Regions from separate parts of the Homo sapiens genome. Here region 2 is linked to region 1. The links come from fine-mapping of genetic effects on gene expression. A gene starts in region 1. The other region holds a variant in brackets. All regions are shown on one strand. Distances are from middle to middle.

What was found.
Region 2: its variant is fine-mapped to the expression of TRPM4 in whole blood (TOPMed, PIP above 0.99).

What each region holds. Positions count from the first base shown.
Region 1 is chr19:49,154,136-49,164,892 of GRCh38, forward strand. It overlaps TRPM4 (transient receptor potential cation channel subfamily M member 4), which reads left to right and starts at 3,657. Exons shown (of 25, transcript NM_017636.4): 1 at 3,657-3,755; 2 at 4,057-4,124. The coding sequence starts at 3,732. HRC (histidine rich calcium binding protein) reads right to left here and starts at 1,261. Exons shown (of 6, transcript NM_002152.3): 1 at 1-1,261. The coding sequence starts at 1,102. RefSeq lists an enhancer at 3,391-4,012 and a silencer at 4,696-4,882.
Region 2 is chr19:49,197,020-49,208,003 of GRCh38, forward strand. TRPM4 (transient receptor potential cation channel subfamily M member 4) reads left to right here. Exons shown (of 25, transcript NM_017636.4): 18 at 3,281-3,413; 19 at 3,592-3,766; 20 at 4,945-5,122. Among named protein-coding and RNA genes, the nearest start is that of TRPM4, 45 kb to the left of the region's middle. RefSeq lists a silencer at 1-66. The variant CA/C (reference allele first, on the strand shown) is at 4,840.

The DNA.
Region 1 (10,757 bases):
GTTGGGGACCCTGGTGCCAACGTTCAGTGGACACATCCTCATCTTCTTCCTCGTCTCTGTGGCCTTGGTGCCTGTGGTCAGGGACATGATGGTGGTGTTCACCTGAGACAGCCTCAACCTCTTCCTTTCTGTGGTCTTGGTGCCTGTGGGCCTGGTGTCCATACTCAGTGGAGACATCATCATCATCATTGTCATCTTCTTCATGGCTTCGGTGCCTGTGGCTGGGGTCGCGATGATGGTGTCCATCTGAGACATCTTCATCCTCTTCAATCCCGTGGCCTTGGTGCCTGTGAGCCTGGTGTCTATATTCAATGGAGACATCATCATCATCATCATCATCATCATCATCATCATCATCATCGTCATCTTCTTCATGGCCTTGGTGCCTGTGGCTGGGGCCATGATGATGGTGTCCATCTGAGACATCCTCATCCTCTTCACTCCCATGGCCTCGGTGCCTGTGGGCCTGGTGTCCATACTCAGTGGAGGCCTCCTCTTCCTCCTCCTCCTCCTCCTCCTCCTCTTCTCCTTCATCATCTTCCCCATCATGGCCTCGGTGTCCATGCCTGAGGATATGATGGTGATGCTCACTGGACACAACTTCATCCTCATCCTCGTCTTGATGGCTGTGGCTCCTGTGGCTGGGGAGGTGGTGCCTGTGCTCAGCTGAGTCTTCCGTGTCTTCACTCCCGTGGCCTCTGTGCCCACGGGCCTGCCCACCATGCTCTGCAAAGACCTCCTCACCTGAGACACCCTCATCTCCGACTTTGTGGTCTTGGGACCTGTGGCCTGGGAGTAGGTGCCCATATTCCTTGGAGACATCTTCATCCTCCTTTTCACGGTCTGGGTGGCTCCAGAAATGATGCCCATTCTCTGTGGAAACATCCTTGTTCTCATCTGGATGGTCTCTAGGGCTGTGGAGGTGGTGGCGAAGCTCTGCTGATGCCTCCTCGGAGAGCCCGGCGACTCCAGTGCTGTTGTTCCGGTTTCTGAAGCCTAGCCCATCCCCTCTGAGCTGCTGGGTCATGGCCGGGGGGAGGAGCAGGCTGGCCACCCCAGCCCAGAGGACAGAAGCGTGCAGCCATGGCCTATGGTGGCCCATGGGGACGGACAGGCAGCACTGGCTCCAGCTGCCTCTGCGGCAATGTGGACAAACGTTGGGGTCTTTGTCCCTTTGGGGTTGGTCTCTTTTTTTCTCTGTGTCTCTCCTTTGTCCTTTCGGTCTCTGTCCACCTTCCTCTGGTCCTTGCTGCCTGGCTCTGGACACCCCTCTGAGGCTGTCTCCGGAGCCCCCTGACCCCCCTCTGGGGCCCTCCCTCCCCATTCCCCAGCCAATAGGGTCCTTCCCCTCCCCTCTCTCCAGCTAAATTTACTCTCAGCCCTGAGTTATTCTGGGTCAGTCCCCGCCTGCCTGCCTCCTGCTCCTCCTCCTCCCAGCTGGGGAGGGGACCAGTGAGGGGTCTCTCCCTGGCCAGGAGACGGTGGCCAAGGGACTTGACTTTGAACTACCAACAAGCTCACGTTTGGCAGCTGCAAAGACAAAGGCTAGACTTTTAGCAGGTTTTTGGGGGAGCCTGGGGCACCTGGGGGAGGCAGAAGAGACTTATCAGAGGGGAGAGACTCCTGGGACGGAAGGACTGGGGGTTCGATTGCGGGGTGTTTCCAGCTGGAATGATACGTGCTGGTGAGAGAGTGATGTCAGTATTGAGGCCCTAGAATGGGGGGAAAGGAACATGGCCCCCAACACACGTGCCCATGACCTCCTGTCCCTGGAACTCAGATCTGGGGGCAGGGACTGGGCTAGGCCAGGGCTATAAATACAGCTGGGAGGGGTAGGGGGACTCAGGTTACGGAGGCCACAGCTGTCCCCATCACAGAGGGCTGGCAGGAGACAAGTGGCCTTGCCCGTCTCTGTGTGTCAGTATTTCCTACTCCTCACCCTTCATGACTGCCCCCACTAGGGTCTCCTTTCCTGTTCACGGGTCCTCCTCTCTCTTCAATTCTGTCATCTGCTCTCTCAGGGTCCCTGTCCCTCCTCCATGGGATTGCCTCTCCCTCTCACTCTGGGCTTCTGTCCCACTCTTATCTTAGTGTCAGTCCTCCCCCAAGTCTGTGTCCCTCTCTCTCCCCTAAATCTCTGGCCCCTCCTTTCTGAGTTCCTGCCCTTCCCCCAATTCTTTGGTTTTTGCATCCCCCTCTGCCCCTTGCCTCAGTCAAGGTGTCTCCTCCCCATCTCTGGCATCCACCTCTCTGGGTCTCTGTCCCCACTCTCTCTCAGAGTCTCTGTCCCCCTCTGTCTCAGAGTCTCTGTCCACCTCTCCCTGGGTCTCTGTCCCCCTCTCTCTGGGTCTCTGTCCCCCTCTCCCTGGGTCTCTGTCCCCCTCTCTCTGTGGATCTCTGTCCCCCTCTCTCTGGGTCTCTGTTCCCCTCTCTCTGTGGGTCTCTGTCCCCCTCTCTCTGTGGATCTCTGTCCCCCTCTCTCTGGGTCTCTGTTCCCCTCTCTCTGTGGGTCTCTGTCCCCCTCTCTCTCTGGGTCTCTGTTCCCCTCTCTCTGGGTCTCTGTCCCCCTCTCTCAGGGTCTCTGTCCCCCTCTGTCTCAGAGTCTCTGTCCCCCTCTCTCTGGGTCTCTGTCCCCTCTCCCTGGGTCTCTGTACCCCTCTCCGTGGGTCTCTGTCCCCTCTCCCTGGGTCTCTGTCCCCCCATCCCTGGGTCTCTGTCCCCCCCTCTCTGGGTCTCTGTCCCCCTCTCTCTGGGTCTCTGTCCTCCTCTCTCTCTGGGTCTCTGTTCCCCTCTCTCTGGGTCTCTGTCCCCCTCTCTCTGGGTCTCTGTCCCCGTCTCTCTGGGTCTCTGTCCCCCTCTCTCTGGGTCTCTGTCCTCCTCTCTCTCTGGGTCTCTGTTCCCCTCTCTCTGGGTCTCTGTCCCCCTCTCTCTGGGTCTCTGTCCCCGTCTCTCTGGGTCTCTGTCCCCCTCTCTCTGGGTCTCTGTCCCCCTCTCTCTGGGTCTCTGTCCCCTCTCCCTGGGTCTCTGTCCCCCTCTCCGTGGGTCTCTGTCCCCTCTCCCTGGGTCTCTGTCCCCCCCTCCCTGGGTCTCTGTCCCCCCCTCTCTGGGTCTCTGTCCCCCCCTCTCTGGGTCTCTGTCCTCCTCTCCCTGGGTCTCTGTCCCCCTCTCTCTGTGGGTCTCTGTCCCACTCTCTCTGGGTCTCTGTCCCACTCTCTCTGGGTCTCTGTCCCCTCTCCCTGGGTCTCTGTCCCCCTCTCTCTGTGGGTCTCTGTCCCCCTCTCTCTCTGTCTATCCCTGGGTCCCTGCTGCCCCACCTTCTGATTCTCTGTCCCCTAAGTCTTTGTCTCCCCCTCTTTGGGTTAAATTGTCCCCTCCCTGTCTGGCATCCTCCTTTCTGAGTCTGTTCCCTCTCCGCCACTGGCCCCCAACTCCTTCTGTTCCCATCTCGCGCTTGCCCTTGGAGTCTCCCCTGTGTGTCTCTCTCCCCCCGGCCCGGACCTCTGCACCCCCCAGGTCGCTGTCCCTCTGTCCCCTTATCGCGGCCTGGGACCCGCCCTCTCCCCGCCTCCCGCTTTGGCGTCTCCAAGACTCCCCGCCCCCCAGACCTCGCCCCGCCCCAGGCTAGGCTGGAAAGTGGAGGATCCGGTTTGCTCTGGGCGGGTCTGGAAGCAGAGCCGGCGGAGGGAGCGCCGGGGCCCTGGGCTGCAGGAGGTTGCGGCGGCCGCGGCAGCATGGTGGTGCCGGAGAAGGAGCAGGTGAGCGCCGGACCAGGGTCTGCGGGAGCGCGGAGCTGGGGACCTCGCCTCCAGGCTCCCAGAGAGGAGGGCGCTGGACACCCAGATTCCTGGGTCAGACGGAGGAGGGGGATGGGAGGGTCCAGGTTCCAGGGTCCAGGGCATGGGGGTCGAGACTCCTGAGTCTGGAGCGGGAGGGCGCTGGGGGCCCGGACTCCTGTGTCCGTGGGGAGCGCACGGGGTGGGTGGCTCTGTGTCCCATAGGACAGAACTGGGTGCCCTCTCACCCCACTTCCACCCCTACATTTGTTCCTGTCCCCAGAGCTGGATCCCCAAGATCTTCAAGAAGAAGACCTGCACGACGTTCATAGTTGACTCCACAGATCCGGGGTGAGGAGTTCGCCCCTGGACTGACCCCAGAGGGTCCGCGGCCCGCTGACCCCGCCCGCGGATGGTCACGCCCCAGCCCTGCTCCTTCCCCATTCCTGGACTCGGGGACCTTCCCAAGGGCGTTCCTTGCCGACGCTCTCCCTCTAGGAGCGTTTGGGTCTGTGTAGACACCCCTCATTCCCCATTCGCCATTCTCCCGCTCAGGGTCAGTGTAGACGCTCCAGGGCTCGGTTCTGCTTCTTTCCTCCCCGATGTCTCTTCTATGTGCTTCTGTCTCTTCGTGTCACTTTCTGTGTCTCTGTCTTTCCCTTTTGGGTATTTCTGTTTCATTCATTCATTCATTCATTCATTCATTCATTCATCCATCCATGCAAGAAACCCTCACTCAGCGCTCCCAAGGTCCCTTTAGCCTAATTCAACGGCCCTGCCAGGGTTCCAATTTCCCCTGGGACACGTGCTGTGTGGCTTCGGGCAAATCATTTCACCTCTCTGGGTCCCGTTTCTCATCTGGGCATCAAAAGAGGCTTGATCTCCTGGGGTTATTATGAGAATTAAACAAGTTAATGCTTGTGATATTCCTGGCACAGCGCCCAGCACAGGACGCTGGGAAATATCTGCAGCTCCCACTGGGAGGTGGCAATTATTACCGCGGGCGGGCCCTGTCTTGGTGGCCGGGGACACCAATTGAGCTAGATAGGGTGTGTGCGTCCGCGAGGAGCTCCCGCCCTTCAGTGACGGCCTCTCAAGCGGATCCAGGCTTTCTAGTTTTTTTTTTTTTTTTTTTTTTTTTGAGACGGTGTCTCGCTCTGTCCCCCAGGCTGGAGTGCAGTGGCGCGATCTCGGCTCACTGCAAGCTCCGCCTCCCGGGTTCACGCCGTTTTCCTGCCTCAGCCTCCCGAGTAGCTGGGACTACAGGCGCCCGCCACCACGCCCGGCTAATTTTTTGTATTTTAGTAGAGACGGGGTTTCACCGTGTTGGCCAGGATGATCTCGATCTCCTGACCTTGTGATCCGCCCGCCTCAGCCCCTCAAAGTACTGGGATTACAGGCGTGAGCCATCGCGCTGGGCCAATTTTTTGTATTTTTTTTTTAGTAGAGACGGGGTTGCACCGTGTTAGCCAGATGGTCTCGATCTCCTGACCTCATGATCCGCCGGCCTCGGCCTCCCAAAGCGCTAGGATTACAGGTGTGAGCCACCGCACCTGGCCCAGGCTTTCTAGTTTTTTGTTTTTTGTTTTTTTGAGACAGAGTCTGGCTCTGTCGCCCAGGCTGGAGTGCAGTGTTGCGATATCAGCTCACTGCAACATCCACCTCCTGGGTTCAAGCAGTTCTCATGCCTCAGCCTCCCTAGTAGCTGGGATTACAGGTGCCTACCACCATGCCCAGCTAATTTTTTGTATTTTAGTAGAGACGGGATTTCACCCTGTTGCCCAGGTTGGTCTTGAACTCTTGATCTCAGGCAATGCACCTGCCTTGGCTTTCCAAAGTACTGGGATTACAGGTGTGAGCCACCGCGCCCAGCCCTCTAGTTGTTTTTCAAGACAGTTTTTGGGGTGCGGGAAGTATCCACATTCCTACTTCAGTGTGTATTTTGTTATGACTATATATTAGTGCAGTATGGCTTGTAAATGATGGATAAATAAACAGATATGCGCTTGTTGGACGTGAGTGCTCAAAACCTTTTTACTGATAGGTCAGTGTGGTCAAGACAATTTAGGAAACTCTGGTCTGGCCTGAGGAGGAAGAAACGCAGAAGATAATTATAGTAAGGCAAGGGGTTGCAGCTCCCAAAGACGAGCCACTGGGCTCTGTGAGAGCTGGGAGGAGGTGTTTGCTTAAGACTGGGAGGGGACACAAAATGTCACTAATGGTTTCTGGAGGGAGGAAGAGTGGCTAGTGAGGTGACATTTGAAAGTGAGCTGGAGAGAGGCCCATGGAAAGCGATTTGGGGCCGGGCATTGTGGCTCACGCCTGTCATCCCAACAATCTGGGAGGCCGAGGCGGGTGGATCACCTAAGTCAGGAGTTCGAGACCAGCTTGGCTAACATGGTGCAACCCTATCTCTACTAAAAATACAAAAATTAACTGGGCGTATTGGCGCATGCCTGTAATCCCAGCTACTCAGGAGGCAGGAGAATCACTTAAACCTGGGAGACGGAGGCTACTATGAGCAGAGATCACGTCACTGCACTCCAGCCTGGGTGACAGAGCAAGACTCCATCTCAAAAAAAAAAAAAAAAAGAAAGAAAGAAAGAAAAAAGTGATTTGAACAGCATGTGCAAAGTCCTTGCTAAGGACCATATGGTTTGGCTTGAATATGAATCAAAGTTCAGGGTGCAGGGAGCACTGTCATGAGAGAAGAGGCTGCAGAGGAGGGCAGGGCCAGAGCTTGCAGGGTGTCAGAGGCCACCCTAAGGGGCTGGGATCTTGTCCTTGGGAGCTGGGGCATCACCGCAGCAGTGGGGTTGGCTCTGGGTGTGGAAAAACTTTCTGGGGCTGGGAGAGGATGAACAGGAGCTCGGGAGGAGGCTGTAGAGAGCGTCTGAGCGGGAGGGGTAGTGGCCTGAGCCAGGTCAGGGCTTTCGGGACACAGAGAGGAGGGCATGGGGCAAAGACTCAGGGGGCAGGAAGGCAGAGCTTGGGGCTTGATGAGGGTGATGAGGGAGAGAGGGGGTGCCGCCATCGGTGGATGGCTCCGGGACGTATGCTCTGCTGACTGGGACACAGTGGGGCTGTCCCTGAGATGGAGAGCTCAGGAGGGCAAGCAGGTTTGGGAAATGTCGCTGAGTGCAATGTGGGAATCTGTGCATATGAGCGGCCTAGGGGGACCGAGGGGCATGTGGGGACTGAGATTGGGAAAGGTCTGGACTAATGTCCAGAATCTGAGAGGTCCGAGTTGTAGCTGGTAATTGAAACTGGAAGTAGGTAAGACGTCACAGGGAAAACAACGTGTAAAGTCAGGGGAGTTGCAAACTGGCAATTCTATAGCCAATTGTGTGCGTGTGTTTGTGTGTGTGTGTGTTTAGAAGAGCATTTAAAAATATCTGTCTTCTGTCTCTCTCTCTTTTTTTTTTTTTTTTTTTTTTGAGACAGGGTCTTGCTCTGTTGTCCAGGCTGGAGTGGCACGATCATGGTTCACTGCAGCCTTGACCTGCTGGGCTCAAGCGATCCTCCCACATGAGCCTCCGGAGTAGCTGGGACCACAGGCATGCACCACCATGCCTGGCTAATTTTAAAATTTTTTGTAGAAACCGGGTCTCCCTTTGATACCAGACCAGGCTGGTATCCAACTCCTGGACTCAAGTGAGCCTCCCACCTCACTCTGCCTGCCAAAGTGCTGGAATTACAGGCGAGAGCCACCATACCCGGCTACCTCTTTTTTTTTTTTGAGACGGAGTCTCGCTCTATCACCCAGGCTGGAGTGCAGTAGTGCGATCTCGGCTCACTTCAACCTCTGCCTCCTGGGTTCAAGCGATTCTCCTGCCTCAGCCCCCCGAGTAGCTGGGATTACAGGCACCCACCATCACGCCTGGCTAATTTTTGTACTTTTAGTAGAGACAAGGTTTCACCATGTTGGCCAGGCTGATCTCGAACTCCTGACCTCAAGTGATCTGCCCACCTGGGCCTCCCAACGTGCTGGGATTACAGGTGTGAGCCACTGCTCCTGGCCCTGGCTACTTCTTTCTGTTGAGTTACTTGACTGGCCTCTGCACACATTGGGTTTGAGAATCATGTAGGGAAGGCTTGCACTGGGAACACCTACACTCAAGGGAGGTGAAAAGCAAGAGAAAGCCACAAACAAGTCAGGCATGAAGCAGCCGGGGCGGGGAGGAAGGCCAGAGGGGCAGGGGTATCCTGCCAAGGAGAGGGTTTCCAGAATGAGAGCCTTTCAGCTGTAGCCAGGGCCACTTGTGATACAGTCAGATGAAACCTGAATAAGGGCCGTTGTATATGGAGCCAGGCAGGAAATTGATGATTTTTATCAAGAACAATTTCAGGCCAGGCACAGTGACTCACAGCTGTAATCCCAGCAGTTTGAGAGGCCGAGGTGGGCTGATCACTTGAGGTCAGGAGTTTGAGACCAGCCTGGCCAATGTGGTAAAACCCCATCTCTACTAAAAATACAAAAACTAGCCAGGTACTGTGGCACATGCCTGTAATCCCAGCTACTCAGGATGCTGAGGCACGAGAGTCGCTTGAGCCCAGGTGGCAGAGGTTGCAGTGAGCTGAGATCGTACCACTGCATTCTAGCCTGGGAGACAGAGCGAGACTCCATCTCAAAACAAAACAAAACAAACAAACAAACAAAAAAACAATTTATTTCAGTTTCTGTGGCTCCACCGAGGAAAGAGTGTAGGAGGCAAGCTGTGCAGAAGGAATGGCTCCTAGCACTGAATGTCAGAATTTTCCACGATTTTGGAAACGTTCTATGTCTACATCCAATATGGCAGTCCTGGCCACAGGGGGCTACTGGGCACTTGGAATATGGCCATTGTACCTGAGAAACTGAATTTTTTTTTGAGGTGGAGTCTCGCTCTGTCGCCCAGGCTGGAGTGCAGTGGTGCAATCTTGGCTCACTGCAACCTCCGCCTCCCGGGTTCATGCCATTCTCCTGCCTCAGCCTCCCGAGTAGCTGGGACTACAGGCACCCGCCACCATGCCAAGCTGATTTTTGTATTTTTAGTAGAAACAGGGTTTCACCATGTTGGCCAGGCTGGTCTCAAAGTCCTGACCTCAGGTGATCCGCCCACCTTGGCCTCCCTAAGTTCTGGGATTACAGGCATGAACCACTGCACTTGACCTGAATTTTTTATTTGATTTAATTTTAACTTATTAGAACAGAAAGAGCTCCATGGCTACAAAGAACCCATGCAGCTATCACATTGGACAGTACAAGCTCCAGACTATTCCGTGAAGAGCTTTTATTTTATTATTATTATTTTTTTTTTTTTTTGAGGCAGAGTCTCATTCTGTTGCCCAGGCTGGAGTGCAGTGGCACAATCTCTGCTCATCACAACCTCCGTCTCCCAGGTTCAAGTGATTCTCCTGCCTCAGCCTCCTGAGTAGCTGGGACTACAGGCGCGTACCACCATGCCCGGCTAATTTTTGTATTTTTAGTAGAGATAAGGTTTCACTATGTTGGCCAGGCTGGTCTCGAACTCCTGACCTCATGATCCGCCCGCCTTGGCCTCCCAAAGTGCTGGGATTACAGTCATGAGCCACCATGCCCGGCCTTATTTCTTATTTTTAGTGACATGGTCTTGCTCTGTTGCCTAGCCTGAACTGCAGTGGTGTGATCATGGCTTATTGCAGCCTTGAACTCCTGAGCTCAAGTGATCCTCCTGCTACAGCCTCCTGAGTAGCTGGAACCACAGGCGTGCACCACCACACCTGGCTAATTAAAACAATTTTTTTTGTAGGGATGGGGTCTCGCTCTATTGCCCAGGCTGTTCTCAAACTCCTGGGCTCAAGCAGTCCTTCTGCCTTGACCTCCCAAAGTGCTTGGATTGTGCCCAGCCGTCCTTGAAGTTTTGCTCAGAAGAGCAAACTTTCTGGGAAGTAGCTGCAGGTGTTGGAAGTAGCTGCAGGGGAACTAGGGGATTCAAGGATGGAGCTGAAATGGGTGAACGGACAAAGTCGGTAAACTGAGGCATGCCAGGGCCCTGGAGGTAGACTCAGGAATGAAGAAGACACTTTATTGTAGTTCTCACTGTGCCAGGACCTGGCCTAAGTGTGTTTGGTTCATCCCATGTGTGGATCAGTTAGCCGTTCTTTTAGTGTCTTTACGGCTTTTGCCAAATCCTTGTAGCACCTCTGCTATCCCTTCTGTAAAATTGCTCTTAAATCTGCTCACTAGGTTTGTGTAAATACAGGTCTCCCCTGATATCTGAACTCCTGGAATCTGGAACAAAGAATTTAGATACATTTTTCTCCTTCTTTCTTCCTTTCTCTTTCTTTTCTTTTCTTTTCTCTCTCTCTTTCTTTCTTTCTCTCTTTCTCTTTCTTTCTCTCTCTTTCCCTCCCTCCCTCCCTCCCTTCCTTCCTTCCTTCCTTTCCTTCCTCCCTCTCTGTCTCTCTCCCTCCCTCCTTCCTTTCTTTCCTTAGTTTTTTTTTTTTTTTTTTTTTTTTTTTTTTTTTTGAGATGGAGTTTCGCTCTTGTCTCCCAGGCTGGAGTACAATAGTGTGATGGCTCACTGCAACTTCTGCCTCCTGGGTTCAACCAATTCTCCTGCCTCAGCCTTCTGAGTAGCTGGGATTACAGGCACCCGCCACCACGACCAGCTAATTTTTGTATTTTTTTTAGTACAGACAGTGTTTCACCATGTTGGCCAGTCTGGTCTCAAACTCTTGACCTCAGATGATCCACCCGCCTCAGCCTCCCAAAGTGCTGGGATTACAGGCATGAGCCACTGCGCCCGGCCTCTTGCTTGCTTGCTTGCTTGCTTGCTTGCTTGCTTGCTTGCTTTTCTTTCCTTCTTTTCTTTTTTTTGAACAGGGTCTCACTCTGTTGCCCAGGTTGGAGTGCAGTGGCGTGGTCACAGCTCTCTGCATCACTGCAGCCTTGATCTCCCAGGCTGAAGTGATCCTCCTGCCTCAGCCTCCTAAGCACATGCTGCCACACCTGGCTAATTT
Region 2 (10,984 bases), 43 kb after region 1:
CGGGCATGACGATTGCCCCAGGGTAATTGGCTGGCACCTGGAGATCTGGCTTCAGGGACGGCAGGATTCAGGAGAAAACCCCACTGTCCGCCACTCAGCCTCTGCTGCTATTTATTGCTAGGCCTGAAGTTTAACAGATATTTATGGGAGCGCCCCGACCTGGGTGCCAACCTCACCTCCTCCCTTCTCTTCCTCCACATAGCTCGTTGGTCCCAGGCCCCTTGCCCTCCTGCCCCCGACTTTTTCTTTCTTTCCTTTTTTTTTCTTTCTTTCTTTCTCTTTCTTTCTTTTTCTTTCTTTCTTTCTTTCTTTCTTTCTTTCTTTCTTTCTTTCTTTCTTTCTTTCTCTCTCTTTCTTTTCTTTCTTTCTCTTTTCTTTTCCTTTCTTTTCTTTTTCTTTTTCTCTTTTCTTTCTCTCTCTCTCCCTCTGTCCTCTGCCCCTCTGCCTCCCTCCCTCCTTCCTTCCTTCCTTCCTTCCTTCCTTCCTTCCTTCCTTCTATGCTTCCTTCCATCCCTCCAAGCTAAGGGTTTAACCCTTGCCCTGCCTGCATTATGGAGTATCCTGCATTAGGATACTCCTCCTTTTGAGGAGAGCAAACAGAAAAGTTTGTGGATACAACCTGGTGACTGGTTTTTTGTTTGTTTGTTTGTTTTTGTTTTCTTTCTTTTCTTTTTTTTTTTTGAGCCAGAGTTCCGCTGTGTCGCCCAGACTGGAGTGCAGTGGTACGATCTTGGCTCACTGCAACCTCCACCTCCTGGGTTCAAGCGATTCTCTTGCCTCAGCCTCGTGAGTAGCTGGGATTACAGGCATGCACCACTACACCTAGCTAAATTTTTTTTGTATTTTTTTTGTAGAGATGGGGCTTTGCCATATTGACCAGGCTGGTCTTGAACTCTTGGCCTCAAGTGATCCACTGGCCTTAGCCTCTGAAAGTGCTGAGATTACAGATGTGGGTCACCGTGCCTGGCCAACAACCTGGTGACTGTTTACAAGGGACCTGACACATCCTGAATGGTTGACAGTGATGACAGTGATGATCCCTACTCAAGCTTTTCCCAGTAGACACGCTGAGAGGCAGGCTTCCTCTAAGCTATGTTAGCAGTGTTACAAAGTGATTCAACATAAATAATTTATTCAAGCAGGGAGCAAGATATGAGAGTTTTGCAGAACACTAATACTTCTGTTTGTAATTTGTTGTATTTTGTATAAAGTGACTTTTGAGATGAAAGGGCTAAGGCCATATGCTACCATGCTCTAGGATTGCCAGTGATATTTTGGACAGTTTATCAAGCCTACCACTTTCCAGGTGAAAAATGGAAAGATCTCAGCTTAAAAGGGAGAAACGGGCCTGGCGTGGTGGCTCATGCCTGTAATCCCAGCACTTTGGGAGGCCGAGGCGGGTGGATCACCTGAGATCAGGAGTTTGAGACCAGCCTGCCCAACATGGTGAAACCCCATCTCTACTAAAAATACAAAAAATTAGCCGGGCATGGTGGCAGGCGCCTGTAATCCCAGCTACTCGGGAGGCTGAGGCAGGATAATTGCCTGAACCTGGGAGGCGGAGGTTGCAGTGAGCCAAGATCATGCCACTGCACTCTAGCCTGGGTGAAAAGAGCAAAACTCTGTCAAAAAAAAAAAAAAAAAAAAAAGGGAGAAATGTCTAATCATCTCCGGAATTGAATGGATGAATCATCCTTTGTTTCGCCAGTTCCCTCTAGATGGACATTTAGGTTCTCTCTTTCTTTCTTTTTTTGTTTTAAATAGAGACAGGGTCTCACTCTGTTGCCCAGGCTGGTCTCAAACTCCAGGGCTCAAGCAATCCTCCCACCTTGGCCTCTCAAAGTGCTGGGATTACAGGCGTGAGCTACTATGCTCAGCCTTCTGTTTTTTTATTATTCCAAAATAATAAAAGTTTACATCCCAGATGTAAAGTTTATGGGTCAAAGGGTACATTTATTTTTGACATGGATAGATTTCCTTCTAAGTAGCTTCACTCATTTCCACACCTGCCATCAGGGTAAGAGAGTGCCCCCTTGAGGCCATGCTCGACAATGCCTGATACTTTCACTCTAAAATGTAGCTCTCAATTTAACTGAAAAAAAATTTGCCAATTTAATGGGTAAACATGACCTCTCCTTGTTATAATTTATGCACTCTTGACTACCAGATAGGTTGGACATCTTTTCCTAAGCTTAATGGCCATATGTCCTTGTGCCCCCTTGTTTTTTTTTTGGTTTTTGTTTTTGTTTTTGTTTTTGAGACGGAGTCTCGCTCTGTAGCCCAGGCTGGAGTGCAGTGGCGCGATCTCGGCTCACTGCAACCTCCGCCTCCCGGGTTCACGCCATTCTCCTGCCTCAGCCTACTGAGTAGCTGGGACTACAGGTGCCTGCCTCCACGCCCGGCTAATTTTTTGTATTTTGTAGTAGAGACGGGGTTTCACCGTGTTAGCCAAGATGTTCTCGATCTCCTGACCCCGTGATCCGCCCGCCTCGGCCTCCCAAAGTGCTAGGATTACAGGCGTGAGCCACTGCGACCGGCCACCCTCCCGTTTTTTTAATTGGGGTTCATTGATTTGTATATGTATAAATGTATATACTCCTTATACTCTGGATCCTAATCCTCGGTAGTTTTGTTGGTCTTAATATCTTCATATCTTCTCGAAGTCTGTGGCTTGTCTTTTCACTTTCACTTTTGTATGTTTCTTTTCTTTTCTTTTTTTTGAGCCTGCCTCGGCCTCCCAAAGTGCTGGGATTACAGGCGTGAGCCACCGCGTCTGTCCATACACTAGGTTTTTAATCCATCCAAAGTTTAAGTACATGAGGATGCAAAATAGGGGTAGAATTTTTATTTTCCCCATAGGAATTATTGATGTTTACTGGCCGTTTGAACGTCCTCTGTGAATTGTACGTGGTATCCTTTATCTGGCTTCCTTCCTTTTGCGTATTAGTTTGTAAGGACTCTATATGTTTTGCCTTTTATAGGTTGGACAGATATTCCGGCAGTTTTTCCAGCTTGATTCTTACAGGGACCAGCTCTTTGCTAAGGCCATCGTTCATTCAGTCATTACTTAATAGGCGCAGCCATTTTAAAAATGGGTGCCAGGGCCCTGCATGGACCAGCTTGGTACTGAATAAATTTGAGTAAACCCCGGGTGACTGGGAGGGTCCTGGTCCTGCCCGGTGGAGGCTGCAGCTTCCTCTGAAGGATGGCATTGGGAAGACTTCCATTTTCCTTGGCGTCTTGTGACACTTGACCCTTGTGGCATCTCCCCACACCCCAGGCTGACCCCGGGTTTGTACCACCTGGGCCGCACTGTCCTCTGCATCGACTTCATGGTTTTCACGGTGCGGCTGCTTCACATCTTCACGGTCAACAAACAGCTGGGGCCCAAGATCGTCATCGTGAGCAAGATGGTGAGGCAGGGGCGGGGCCAAAGTGGGCGGGGACATAGGGAAAGGGGTGGGGCCAGGGAGGGAGTGGTCCGTGGAGAAGGGGCGTGACTTTGGGGAGCAATGGGGCGTGTTTTTGGGATATAGGGGTGGGGCCAGAGTAGGAAAGGGCGGGGCCAGACTCAGCCACATCTCCCCACAGATGAAGGACGTGTTCTTCTTCCTCTTCTTCCTCGGCGTGTGGCTGGTAGCCTATGGCGTGGCCACGGAGGGGCTCCTGAGGCCACGGGACAGTGACTTCCCAAGTATCCTGCGCCGCGTCTTCTACCGTCCCTACCTGCAGATCTTCGGGCAGATTCCCCAGGAGGACATGGACGGTAGGGGGGATGACGGCCTGACAGCCTTCCTCTGAGTCTCTGTCCCCGCTCCCTGGGTCTCTGTCCTCCTGGCTCTAAGAAAATATCTGTCTCTCTGAGTCTCTGTCTCCCTCTTTCTCTGGATCTCTGAGTGATACCCTATATTCCCCATCATCATCTCTCTGGGTCTCTGCCTACCCCACCCCCTCTGTCTTTCTGTCTGTCTTTCTTTTTTCTTTTTTTTTTTCTTTTTTTTTGAGATGGATGTTAGAAATGTTTATTTTGTGGTGTCGTAAAGAAATAGTACTTGAACATAAATTTAATTTTTTTAGTAAAGCCATTTTTATTTTTTGTAGAAAGGGTACACTCGCCAGCAGTTTTGTCATGAGAGTACACGGAACAAAGGAGATAGGGTCATTTATAACCTGACGCGTCTATTTTACTGCTGTGTCTGGTTTTTATTGGCTGGAACCGGACTTTACATTTTGTATTTGTCTTGATTGGCTAGTAACTTAGAAGTTTTTAAAAGAAGCGAAGGCAGAGGAGAACAAAGGAAGGAGGAAGTAACTTGTGGAATGTTGAGAAAGGTAAAAACACTTTTAAATAAGGAAGAGGAACAGGCTATGATCTAATGCTTGCTTGAACCAGTATAAGTATGTCAGGGCAAATATTTAGGCTAAATTGTGAGAGCTAAGAACATAAAGTACATTGATTTATTTTTTATGGCTAGTAGATATTTAAGAATGTTAGCACAGGTGTTTGAATAAATTTTGTTTCTAAGAGAAGTTACTATTTATTGTTAATTAGATGGGGAGGAAAGTCTTTGAAGAGGAACCTGTACTTTACTTTTTACATGGAGTTTTGCTCTTGTTGCCCAGGCTGGAGTGCAATGGCACGATCTCAGCTCACTGCAACCTCCACCTCCCAGATCGAAGCGATTCTCCTATCTCAGCCTCCCGAGTAGCTGGGACTACAGGCGCGTGCCACCACGCCTGGCTAACAGTTTTGTGTTTTTAGTAGAGATGGGGTTTCATCACATTGGTCAGGCTAGTCTCAAACTCCCCACCTCAGGTGATCCGGCCATCTCAGCCTCC[CA/C]AAAGTGCTGGGATTACAGGCGTGAGCCACCGCGCCCGGCAGTCTTCCTGTCTTTCTTAGGTCTCTGTCCCCCTCACCCCATCTCTGAATGTCTCTCTTCACAGTGGCCCTCATGGAGCACAGCAACTGCTCGTCGGAGCCCGGCTTCTGGGCACACCCTCCTGGGGCCCAGGCGGGCACCTGCGTCTCCCAGTATGCCAACTGGCTGGTGGTGCTGCTCCTCGTCATCTTCCTGCTCGTGGCCAACATCCTGCTGGTCAACTTGCTCATTGCCATGTTCAGGTGAGGCCTGACTGCTCTCTGATCTGACCCCACCCAGCATGACCCGTGGCCCTCTCATGACTCTTGAACCCCGTCTAATGAATTCTGTTTTTAGTCCCTGAACTCTGATCCAATCTAATGCTGCCTTCTCCCCAAACCCAACCAGACCCTGCTTGTAATTTGGACTTTGGACTGATCCTCTCCCTGAGCCCAGGTTGAACTTCCTTATTTGTATTTTTTTGAGACAGGGTCTCACTCTGTCGCCAAGGCTAGAGTGTGGTGATGTGATCGTAGCTTACTGCAGCCTCGACCTCCTGGACTCAAGCAATCCTCCTGCCTTCGCCCCATAAGTAGCTGGGACTACTTAAAATTAGCCAGGCCAGCAGGCCTGCCTAATTTAAAAAAATTTTTGGAGAGAGGGGTCTCACTATGTTGTCCATGCTAGTCTCGAGCTCCTGGACTCAAGTGATCCTCCCTCCTCAGCCTCCCAAAGTGCTGGGATAATCTGTCACCTAGGCTGGAGTGTAGTGGCAAGTTCTCAGCTCACTGCAACCTCCACTTCCCACTCCCCCATACCCAGTTAATTTTTTGTATTTGTAGTAGAGATAGGGTTTCACCATGTTGGCCTTGAACTCTTGACCTCAAGTGATTGGCCCACCTCAGCCTCCCAAAGTGTTGGGATTACAGGTGTGAGCCATCGCGCCCAGCCAACTTTGTTTTTTATTGTGGTAAAATTATATAAAATTTTCCATTTTTACTTCTTTTTTTTTTTTTTTTTTTTTGACGGAGTCTCGCTGTGTCACCCAGGCTAGAGTGCAGTGGCACGATCTCACAATCTCAGCTCACTACAAGCTCCGCCACCCGGGTTCACGCCATTCTCCTACCTCAGCCTCCTGAGTAGCTGGGACTACAGGTGCCCGCCACCACGCCCAGCTAATTTTTTTGTATTTTTAGTAGAGACGGAGTTTCACCGTGTTAACCCGGATGGTCTCAATCTCCTGACCTCGTGATCCACCCGCCTTGGCCTCCCAAAGTGCTAGGATTACAGGCGTGAGCCACCGCGCCCCGCCTTTTTTTGAGATGGAGTCTCGCTCTGTCGCCCAGGCTGGAGTGCAATGGTGCAATCTCAGCTTACTGCAACCTCCACCTCCCAGGTTCAAGCGATTCTCCTGCCTCAGCCTCCCAAGTAGCTAGGACTACAGGCGTGCGCCACCACACCTGGCTAATTTTTTGTATTTTTAGTAGAGATGGGGTTTCACCGTGTTAGCCAGGATGGTTTCGATCTCCTGACCTTGTGATCCGCCCGCCTTGGCCTCCCAGAGTGCTGGGATTACTGACATGAGCCACCGCGGCCGGAGTTGATTTTTACCATTTTTAAGTGTACAAGTCAGTGACATTAATTACATTTACAGTACTCTCCAACCATCACCACTATCTATTTTCAATACGTTCTATCACCCAGAACAGAAAGTGTGTCCCCATGAAACAGCAACTCCCCACTTCCCCTCCCCACAGGTCTTAGTAACCTCCAGTGTATTTTCTGTCTCTATGGATTTAGTCTAGATGTTTCATGTAAGTGGAATTATGCGATATTTGTCTTTTGGTGTCTGGCTGATTTTACTGAGCATGTTTTCAAGGCTCATCCCTGTTGTAGTGTGCATCAGAACTTCATTCATTCCGTTTTATGAATGAGTAATATTCTATTGTACAAATAGACCACATTTGGGCCCAGCGTGGTGGCTCATGCCTGTAATCCCAGCACTTTGGGAGGCCTAGGCGGGTGGATCACCTGAGGTCAGGAGTTCGAGACCAGCCTGGCCAACGTGGCAGGACCCCCTTTTTACTAAAAATACAAAAATTAGCTGGGCTCATGTCTGTAATTCCAGCTACTTGGGAGGCTCAGGCACGAGAGTCGCTTGAACCCAGGAGGCGGAGGCTACAGTGAGCCAAGATCGTGCCACTGCACTCCAGCCTGGGCAACAGAGCGAGACTCCATCTCAAAAAAAGAAGACCACATTTGATTTACCCGCTCATCTGTTGATGAACACTTGGGTTCTTTCTGCCTTTTGGCTATTGTGACTAATGTTTGTTGGAACATTGGCATGCAAGTATCTATTTGAATCCTTGTTTTTATTTCCTTTGGGTGTGTATCTCAAAGTGGAATTCCTCGGTCATGTGGTAATTCTATGTATAGCTTTTTGAGAAACCACCAAACTGGTTTCCACAGCAGCTGCACCATTTTCCATTCTCACCAGCAGTGTATGAGGGTTTTAATTTCTCCACATCCTAGCCAACACTTGTTATTTTCCTTTTGTAAAAATTATAGTCATCCAGCTGGGTGTAGTGGCTCATGCCTGTAATCCCAGCACTTTGGGGGGCTGAGGTGGGAGGATTGCTTGAGCACAAGAGTTCGAGACCAGCCTGGGCAACATAGCGAGGCTGCTGTCTCTACCAAAACACCAGAAATGAGATACCACTTCACACCTGCAGCCTCAACCTCCTGGGCTCAAGTGATCCTCCCACCTCAGCCTCCCAAGTAGCTGGGACTACAGTTACGTGCCACCATACCTGGCTTGTTTTTTTAATTTTTTTTTTACTTTTATTTTATTTATTTATTTTTAGTAGAAACGGGGTTTCACCATGTTATCCAGGATGGTCTCGATCTCCTGACCTTGTGATCCACCCATCTCGGCTGGATCCCAAAGTGCTGGGATTACAGGCGTGAGCCACCGTGCCCAGCGGCTATTTTTTTTTTTTTTAATGAAACTCCTTTTTAATCCTATGTTAGGTCTCTCTGTTTGCTTCCTTTCTTGTTGGCATGATTTTTGCTGAGAAAATATAAAATTTCATTGGCTTTGGTTGTTTTTTTTTTTTTTTTTTTTTCAGAGATGGGGTCTTACTATATTGCCCAGGCTGATCTTGAACCCCTGGGCTCAAGCAGTCCTCTTGCCTTGGCCTTCCAAAGTGCTGGGATTATAGGCACAAGCCCCTGTGCTGGACCTATTGTATTAGTTTCCTAGGGCCGCCAGAGTACCAAAAACTGTGTGGCTTTAAATCACAGAAATTGTCTCACAATTCTGGATGCTAGAGGTCCAAAATCAAGGCATCCGTCAAGCTGTTTTCTTCTGAGGGATGTCGGGGAGAGTCTGTTCCATGCCCCTCCTGTCACGTCTAGTGCTTTGCTGGCCATCTTTGGCTTCTAGTTGCGTCATTGAAACTTCTGCTTTCATCTTCCAGATTTCCCCTTTTAATAAAACGTTACTTAAATTGGATTAGGGACCATGCTAATAACTTCATTTTAACTTGATCACATGTGTAAACTCTATTTCCGAATAAAGCCACATATTTCATAAATAAAAAATTTAAAAAGGTCTCATTCTGAGGCACTATGGGTTATGACTTCAACTTTTTTTTTTTTTTTTTTTTTTTTTTGGAGACAGAGTCTTGCTCTGTCACCCAGGTTGGAGTGCAATGGCGTGATCTCGGCTCACTGCAACCTCCACCTCCTGGGTTCAAGGGATTCTCCTGCCTCAGCCTCCCGAGTAGCTGGGATTACAGGTGCCTGCCACTATACACAGCTAATTTTTGTATTTTTAGTAGGGACGGGGTTTCACCATGTTGCCCAGGCCGATCTCAAACTCCTGACCTCAGGTGATGCACCTGCCTCGGCCTCCCAAAGTGCTGGGATTACAGCCGTGAGCCACTGGACCCGGCCGGACTTCAACATATCTTTAGCGGGATACAATTCAATGCATGACACTCATAGATTTATGAGTTTATTTCTGGACTTTCAATTCTATTCCACTGGATTGCGTCTATCCTTATGCCAGAACCACACAGTTTTTTGGGTTTTTTTTGAGACGGAGTCTCGCTCTTGTCACCCAGGCGGGATTGCAGTGGCACGATCTCTGCTCACTGCAACATCCGCATCCTGGATTCAAACGATTCTCCTAACTCAGCCTCCTGAGTAGCTGGGATTACAGGCACCTGCCACCACGCCCGGCTAATTTTTTTGTATTTTTGGTAGAGACAGGGTTTCACCATGTTGGCCAGGCTAGTCTTGAACTCCTGACCTCAGGTGATCTGCCTCGGCTTTCCAAGGTGCTGGGATTACAGGCGTGAGCCACCATGTCTAGCCCACACAGTGTTGATTACTGTAGGTTTGTAGCAAATTTTGACATTGGAAGTATGAGTCTCCTTTGTTATTTTTCAAGATTGTTTTGGCTATTCTGGGCCTCCTGCAATTCTATATGAACTTAAAGATCAGAGTTTCCATGTCTGTCAAAAAGGTTGTTGGAATTTTCTTTTTTTTTCCTTTTTTTTTTTTCTTTTTTTTGAGACAGAGTTTCACTCTTGTTGCCCAGGCTGGAGTGCAATGGCGCGATCTCAGCTCACCACAACCTCTGCCTCCCGGGCTCAAGCGATTCTCCTGCCTCAGCCTCCTGAGTAGCTGGGCTTATAGGCATGTGCCACCACGCCCGGCTAATTTTGTATTTTTAGTAGAGACAGGGTTTCTCCATGTTGGTCAGGCTGGTCTCGAACTCCCGACCTCAGGTGATCCACCCGCCTTGGCCTCCCAAAGTTCTGGGATTACAGGTGTGAGCCACCGCGCCCGGCCAGTTGTTGGAATTTTCCGAGGGATTGCGTTGAATCTGTAGATTGCTTCGGGTAGTATTGATATTTCATCTAGGTGTTCTTTTTAATGCTTTTCCAGCAGTATTTGGTAGTTTTCAGGCTACAAATTGTTCACCCTTTTGGTTAACTTTATTCCTAGGTGCTTAACCTTTAGATACTGTTGTAAGTGGAATTGCTTTCTTAATTTCCTTTTTGGATTGTTCATTGCGGGTGTGTAGAAACACAACTGATTTTTGTGTGATCTTGTACCCTGCAACTTTGCTGAATCTGCAGCCCTAGAAGCTTTCTTGTGATTCTCTGGCATTTCCTATATATAGGATCATGTCATCTGTGAATAGAGATATTTTTACTTCTTCCTTTCCAATTTGGATGCCTTTTATTTTTTTTCTTGTTTAATTGTTCTAGCCAGAACTTCCAGCACAATGTGGAATAGCAGTGGTAAAAGTGGACATCCTTGTCTTGTCCCTGATCTTAGGCAGAAAGCTTTCACTCTTTCACCATTGGGTATGACGGTAGCTGTGGGTTTTTCAGAAGTACCTTTTCTCATGTTGAGAAAGTTTATTTCTATTCCTAGTTTACGATTTTTAAAAATTATGATGCATGGTGGCTTGTGCCTGCAATCACAATACTTTAGGGAGCCAAAGTGGGAGGATCACTTGAGGCCAGGAGTTCAAGACCGACCTGGGCAACATAGTGAGACCTTATCTCAATAAAAAAATAAAAAATTTGCCAGGCGTGGTGGTGCATGCCTGTAGTCCCAGCTACTCAAGAGGCTGAGGTGGGAGGAAGGCTTGAGCCCAGGAGGTCAAGGCTGTGGCTTCAGTGAGCCATGATTTCACCACCATCATGATTGTGCCACCAACAGAGTGAAACCTTGTCTCAAAAAAAAAAAAAAAAAAAAAAAGCCATGCATGGTGGCTCAAGCCTGCAATCCCAGCACTTTGGGAGGCCGAGGTGGGCAGATCATGAGGTCAGGAGATCGAGACCATCCTGGCTAACACGGTTGTAGGGGCCAGCCCTACAAGGTCTGTGGGTTTTTCTCCCCGTGTGCAGAGACAAGAGATTGTAGAAATGAAGACACAAGACAAAGAGATCAAAGAAAAGACAGCTGGGCCTGGGGGACCACTACCACCAAGACGTGGAGACCGACAGTGGCCCCTAATGCCTGGCTGCGCTGTTATTTATTGGATACAAAGCAAAAGGGGCAGGGTAAAGAGTGTGAGTCATCTCCAATGATTGATAAGGTCA